Linked DNA regions of Homo sapiens. Changing the gene in region 1 together with any one later gene gives a genetic interaction. Each region holds a gene or a part of one and is shown on either strand. Other genes may lie near its edges.

Region 1 (3,649 bases):
TGGGAGGCCGAGGCGGGCGGATCACCTGAGGTCAGGAGTTCGAGACCAGCCTCAACATGGAGAAACCCCGTCTCTACTAAAAATACAAAAAATTATCCGGGCATGGTGGTGCATGCCTGTAATCCCAGCTACTCAGGAGGCTAAGGCAGGAGAATTGCTTGAACCTGGGAGGCGGAGGTTGCGGTGAGCCAAGATCGTGCCATTGCACCCCAGCCTGGGCAACAAGAGCGAAACTCCGTCTCAAAAAAAAAAAAGGCCAGGCGTGGTGTTTCATGCCTGTAATCCCAGCACTTTGGGAGGCCGAGGCAGACTGATCACGAGGTCAAGAGATCGATACCATCCTGGCCAACATGGTGAAACCCCGTCTCTAATAAAAATACAAAAATTAGCTGGGCGTGGTGGCACATGCCTGTAGTCCCAGCTACTCGGAAGGCTGAGGCAGGAGAATCACTTGAACTGGAAGGCAGGGAGCAGAGATCGCACCTCTGTCCTCCAGCCTGGTGACAGAGCGAGATTCCATCTAAAAAAAAAAGAAAAGAAAAGAAAGAAAAAGTGAAAGTTTTAAGTGCTATGGGGAAAGAAATCAAGTGTGATAAGGGCATCAGGAGTACGAGGGTGAAGACAGGTTGCAGCCCTAAATAGGGAGGTCAGTTATTATTGAGTAAATGAGACCAAAGGGAAGACTTGAAGGAGATGAGAGAATTAGCCATGCAGAGACCTGGGGGAAGAGAATTCCAGGAAGAAGGATCAGTCAGTGTCAAGGCCTAAGTCAAGAAGGTTAGAAGAGCTAGAAACCATCAAGGGGGAAGAGCGGCAGACATGAAGAGACTGTGTACGGACAGGAAGATCAGGTGCAGCTTTGTAGGCCATTTTTAGAATTTGAGTTGCGTTTTCCTCCGAGTGAAATGAGAAACTGCTGCAGGGTTTTGAGCAGGGGAATGACAAGCTCTTATTTATGTTTTAATAGAGCCTCCCCTCCCCTGCTGCTGCACTGAAAATAGATGGGGGGTGGGGGGAAGGGTGCCCCTGCAGTATTTCTGGCTCAGACCAGTTGGCGGCAGTGAGGTGGTGAGAAGTGGTCAGATTCTGAATGTATTTTGCAGGTAGAGCTGACAGGATTTGCTAATTGATCGGATATGGGGTATGGAGTGTGGGCGAGAAAGAAAGGAGTCAAAGGTGACAGGTGACTCTGAGGTTTTTGCCATAAGGAACTGGAACGATGCATTAGCCACTGAGCAGGAAAGACTGTGGTGGAAGGGGTTGGGGGGAGAGCAGAAGTTTGCTTGGGACATGTTGAGTCTGAGATGCTTATTAGCCATCCAAATGTGATAGAGGGGGCAGTCAGGTACACAACTCTGGGTTTGGGAGAAAGGTCTGGATTGGAGAGACATTTGGGAGTTGGCTACATATAGATGGTATCTCAAGCCATGAGACTAGTTGAGACCACCAAAGGAGTGTAGGTGAAATGACGGAGAAGAGAACAGGGTATCTAACGTTAAGGGGAGGAACAAGGAAAGGAGACTGGGAAAGAGCAGCTAGTGAGGTAGGAGTCAACCAAGAGAGGGTGCAGCCCTGGAGGTCAGGTGAAGACAGTGTGTCAAAGAAGGATGTATGTTCAGGCTGCTGATGGGCCAATAGAGGAGGACTGAGCATTGAGCATTACATGGAGCAAAAACACAGAGGTTCTTGGTGACCTTGACAAGAACAGATGCAGTGGAGAGATGGAGGCCAACGCCTGAGTGGGGTGGGTTCAAGGGAGAATGGGGGAGGGGAACTAGAGGTAGCAAGTACAGATAACTCTTGCGATGAGTTTTGCTGCAAGTGAGAGCAAATACTGGGACTGAGGGGAAACCAGGAGATTAAGAGAATTTTTTTTTAATGATGAAAGAAATAACAGTAGGTTTACCTGCGGATGGGGATGATCCAGTAAAAAAGGAAAACATGGCTGGGCACGGTGACTCACACCTGTAATCCCAGCATTTTGGGAGGGCGAGGTGGATGGATCACCTGAGGTCAAGAGTTCAAGACCAACCTGGCCAGCATGGTGAAACCCCTTCTCTACTAAAAATACAAAAAAATTAGCCAGGCGTGGTGGTGCACACCTGTAATCCCAGCTACTCAGGAGGCTGAAGCAGGATAATCACTTGAACTGGGGAGGCAGAGGTTGCAGTGAGCTGAGATGGTGCCACTGCACTCCAGCCTGGGCGACAAGAGTGAAACTCCCCCCGTCTCAAAAAAAAAGAAAGAAAAAGAAAAGGAAAACATGGGTGTCACAGAGGACCACAGAATGGCTTAATTTATGTCCTTGAGCAGGTGAGAAGGAGGAGACCTAGTGCACAAGTGGAAAGACAGATAGGGACCGAAGAATGAGCCAACCTGCTCTCGGCTAGCAGCTGCCCCATAGCAGTGCAGGCATGGGATAGAACTCAGCTCTCCTCAGTCCATGAGGCCTCCTAGCTCTAAAAGCCCGCACCCAAACGCCCTCACCTGGCTCCCAGCCCCTGCCCTACACCCCATACCCTGGGGTAGCCGGGCAAGCAGCACTTACATACCCATGCCCATACAGTGCCCATACATGCCCATACAGTGACCTCAGGCCTGGCGGAGGGCACTCCCCTCCGATTTCCACACTGCTGCCTCCCCAAGGGGATGGATGTTGGCTTGAGAGGGAAGGGGAGTCTGTGATCTGTGGGCAGGGGTTGCATCAGGGAATAAAGATCAGGTAACAGGACGCCTGTGGCGTGAGGCGTTCTGAGAATGGTAATGGGTTGGGTTTGGTTGCCTCTCATGTTCTGGGGGAACGTTGTCTGAACGTGAATCTCTGGTTCTAGGGCCAGCATCTCGCTCCGTGGAGCGCCTCAAGGAGATGATCAAGGCCGGGATGAACATTGCGCGACTCAACTTCTCCCACGGCTCCCACGAGGTGCGGGACGGGCCGCCGGGCAGTGGGTGGGGCAGGAGGATGCCTCGAGGTCCTGGCCACCTTCCCCTGAAACCCTCGCTCCGCTCCCTCCCCCAGTACCATGCTGAGTCCATCGCCAACGTCCGGGAGGCGGTGGAGAGCTTTGCAGGTTCCCCACTCAGCTACCGGCCCGTGGCCATCGCCCTGGACACCAAGGGACCGGAGATCCGCACTGGGATCCTGCAGGGGGTGAGCAGTGGGGCTGGGACTCGCTGGGCCAGGGCCGGAAAGGCGGCGCCTGTAGGGTTGGGCCCAGGCGTGGGCAGGGGCGGGTCCCGGACTCCGGGGCTCAGAACTCACATCTCCTCTGGCTCCCTCCTTAGGGTCCAGAGTCGGAAGTGGAGCTGGTGAAGGGCTCCCAGGTGCTGGTGACTGTGGACCCCGCGTTCCGGACGCGGGGGAACGCGAACACCGTGTGGGTGGACTACCCCAATATTGTCCGGGTCGTGCCGGTGGGGGGCCGCATCTACATTGACGACGGGCTCATCTCCCTAGTGGTCCAGAAAATCGGTGCGGACGCGCCTCCCGCCCTGACCACATCCGTGCGCTGGGCACATTCCCTTCTCCTTGGCTCCCCCATCAGCCCTCAGACCGATCACACCTTCCCCTGGCCACGCGTTTTTGCCAGCCCGTCCCAGGAGTCCCCAGCGTGTAGACTCTGCGCTCACCCTGGGTTTGGGCTGGACT
Region 2 (3,290 bases), on another chromosome or scaffold:
TTGCATTGGTCAGGATAGAGGCAAAATCCTTCTTCTCCAATTCGGGGAGGCCCTTCATGTAGTTCTTGGCCTGTGTGGGAAGAAAGGGTGAGGGGCCAACACCAAGGCCCAGGTCCGCCCCCACCCCCACCCAGCTCCCCACTCACCCCTTACCTCATCGCTCTGCAGCCGCTGCACAAACTCAGCCGGAGGCGTCCCCGTCACCTTCATGATCTCCTTCAGCTGGTCCAGGTCTGCACCGAGGTCAGGAACACAGCTCGGGGGCCAGAGATCAGGGCCCCCACTGCCCCCACCTGGGCAGGAGCCATCCCCACCCGCCCCTGGTGCCGCCCTGCGGCTGGAGGATACGGTCGCTGCCCTTGAACAGCGTCTTGCCTGTGATCATCTCCGCCATGATGCAGCCCACAGACCAGATGTCCACTGAGATAGAAGCCCTGGTCAGCTCCGTGGGCAGGGGGACAGGATGAGACGGGGAGGGAGGAGACACCAACACAGCCCACCTGCCCGGCTCCCACCCCAGCTCAACAGCCTCCCTGGGAGCAGCCACCACAGGGCTGTCCGTGAAGAAGTGGAGAAGCAGATGGTGCAGCCTGAGAGGCCCAGATCTCTGGGCAGCTTCTCACCCGTCTGCGTGTAGCGCATCCAATTCAAGATGACCTCGGGAGCCCGGTACCACCGGGTCACCACGTACCCAGTCATCTCACTGTCTGCCTGCCTGGCCAGGCCGAAGTCCAGGATCTGTGGGAAGAATTGGGGAGGTGGGTTCTAGGGGACTCCCAAGGAGCGGACAGGCCACCCACGGTCCAGGAGACCCCGGGGGGTTGGACTTGAAGCTCCCAAGCTGGGGCCTCCTGACAACCTTCAAGGACTTGAGGCCACGCCCTCGGACCCCAAACTGCCCCGAGCTCCTCCCTCTGGCCAGTGCACCAAGCCCAGCAGCCCTCGGGACGGAGCAGGTGCCCTGGGTACGGCATGTTGTGTACCACTGCCTCTTGGGCTCACCCACCCACCAGCTCCTCAGCCACTGCCCAGAGCCTGGGACCTTGGCCCCCTGCCCAGGCCTGACAGGTGGATAGATGGGCAGATCCAGAGGGGGCCCCTGCCCCACCTCAGGGCCCCCTGCCAGGCAGCACACACCTTCAGCTCACAGTCTTCGTTCACAGCCAGGTTGCCGGGCTTCAGGTCCTGGGGGCAGAGGAAAGGTGGCCACTGTGCCCCACCCTCCCAAGCATGGGCACAGCCAAGAGCCTGGGTGGCACCTAAAGATGGGGCCACCGGACCTGGCCCCCTTGCTCTCTGCAGCCCTTCAAGGGCAGACCAAGGTACCTGGGCACCCAGGCAGGTTCCCACCAGGGGCTGTGCATAGGGCGTGGCTCAGCACCCAGACCCCATCACATCCTCACAGGTGGGACGTGGAGGCGGGGGGATTGCACTGGGGGAGGGCTGATGAGCGGCTTCTCCACCGGGACTCACTCTGTGGATGATGCCGGCAGCGTGGATATACTGCGGGGGGCAGAGGATTTGGCAGGCTTCAGCGCACCCTCTCAGAGCCACAGGGCCCTCCTCTGCCCAGCCCCGAGGCCCTGCCTGCCTCCCTGCAGCCTCCCCCGGGGCCCGTACCCTCAGCCCCTTCAGCATCTGGTACACGAGGAACTGGATCCGGTCCTCGCCTAGCTTCTCATGTTTCATGAGCTTGCCCAGGTCGGTGCCCATGAACGGCATCACCAGGTAACTGTGGGAGGGGCCGGAGCGCTGTCAGCGGACAGAGCCAGCCTCTGCATCCCAGAGACCCACCCAGCAGGCCCAGGCTCAGACCCGTCCCGGATCCAACAGGCACCCCCAGGAAGGTCACCCCTGCAGCACACATCCACACTGGCCTCGGTGTCCTCGCAGCCCCACCTTGCAGTGCCAGGCTCCATCCTCCCGCAACTGTTACTGCCAGCAGCGCTCACACCCCCCTCCCACCCTGAGGACTGTCAGGCAGGGAGGAGGCTGCCTTGGGGTTTTTGAACCCTCCGCTGAAGCGCCCTGCGTGCCAGGCTAGGGGCTGAGGCTCCATGGTAGAGGCAGCAGGACTCGAGTCTTCACAGGCAGGGGAGGGAGGCAGTCAGGTTTCAACTTCACAACTTTGTGCCAGAAATGAGGGAGGTGCCTGGGGGCGATGGGGGCGCGGCAAGGCATCTGGGTCAGAGGGGTCGGCTGGGCCGGTGGAGACAGACACAGGAGAATGGTATTTAGCACCTTCCCAGAGGCCACTGACTTGACCTCTGCAAGTCAGGCGGGAGGCGCCTGCTACCCTCTCCAGGCCTTCCTCGGCCTGGCCCTTCACTCTTGGCCGACAGGGTGTGAGTCCCAGGGTGGTCGGCTGCAGGGCAGGGGCAGGGTGGGTCCTCCCTACCGCTTCTCCCCCACCCGCTGGAAAAGGTCAGCAGCTCCAGTTACCGGCCACACACTTGGTGCCAGGGTCCCGAGCACGGGACCTTCCTGTTAACAAATGGTCAGGTCCAAGGTTCACACCTCCGGTGCTGGAGAGGGCCCAGGTGCCAGGCGTGGAGAGAGGCAGCAGCCCCAGCTCTGCCCAGCTGTGCCAGTGCCCGTGGGTCCCAGGACCATGTGGGGGAGGGCGTGGGGTGGACAGTGGTATGGGGAGGGGGTGGGCGGTGTGCATCCCCCACTCAGGCTGCAGGAAGAGAACCCCATTGCCAACCTAGAACCTGAAGCCAGTGCCCAGAGCTGCCCAACACCCCTCGTGCCCAGCGGCCAGCCCAGGTCGGCACTCACAAGTCCGTGAAGTCATCCAGGGTCTCATCAGGAGTGAATACGTCCAGCAGCCCGATCACCTGGGGGGGCCACATAGGGTTGAGAATGCAGCAGAGGACACGGGCTGGGGCACCCCCCAAGAGTGGCACAACCCTCTGGGCAGGAAACCCCCTCTGCAGCTGTCATTGTCATGCCCCACTGTCCAAAGGGCCTGGCTCTGCCCACTGGCAGTGTGGCCCAGCCCTGGCACACATACCCACTGGCAGTGTGGCCCAGCCCTGGCACACATACCCACAGAAAGGTTATTTTTGGACGGTGACAACCGGGATCTTCTGGGGGAGGGGCAACCCGGAGTCTGGGATGGCTCCGAACCATCCAAAGGGCTCCTGCCGCCTGACCCTTTCACCCCTCTTCACCCCAACCAAACAGATCCAGGCCCAGGGTGGGGACAGCGCTATGGAAAGAGGCCAGGCCTCTGCTGGTGAGGCCCAGGCGGACAGCACCGTGACCCACCAGACCTGGTCCCCTCA

Evidence for each region. A genetic interaction does not mean that the proteins touch.
Region 2: changes in PKLR (region 1) and MAPK12 together harm fitness more than expected from each alone (negative genetic interaction), as found in Homo sapiens cells (one large-scale study listed by BioGRID).

The regions. Positions count from the first base shown.
Region 1 is NC_000001.11:155,294,939-155,298,587, reverse strand, and holds part of PKLR (pyruvate kinase PKLR), read left to right. Parts: intron 1-2,831; coding exon 2,832-2,923; intron 2,924-3,019; coding exon 3,020-3,151; intron 3,152-3,285; coding exon 3,286-3,472; intron 3,473-3,649. UniProt on the Homo sapiens protein: Pyruvate kinase that catalyzes the conversion of phosphoenolpyruvate to pyruvate with the synthesis of ATP, and which plays a key role in glycolysis.
Region 2 is NC_000022.11:50,255,462-50,258,751, forward strand, and holds part of MAPK12 (mitogen-activated protein kinase 12), read right to left. Parts: intron 2,841-3,290; coding exon 2,782-2,840; intron 1,733-2,781; coding exon 1,621-1,732; intron 1,504-1,620; coding exon 1,474-1,503; intron 1,186-1,473; coding exon 1,138-1,185; intron 739-1,137; coding exon 624-738; intron 421-623; coding exon 349-420; intron 234-348; coding exon 154-233; intron 71-153; coding exon 1-70. UniProt on the Homo sapiens protein: Serine/threonine kinase which acts as an essential component of the MAP kinase signal transduction pathway.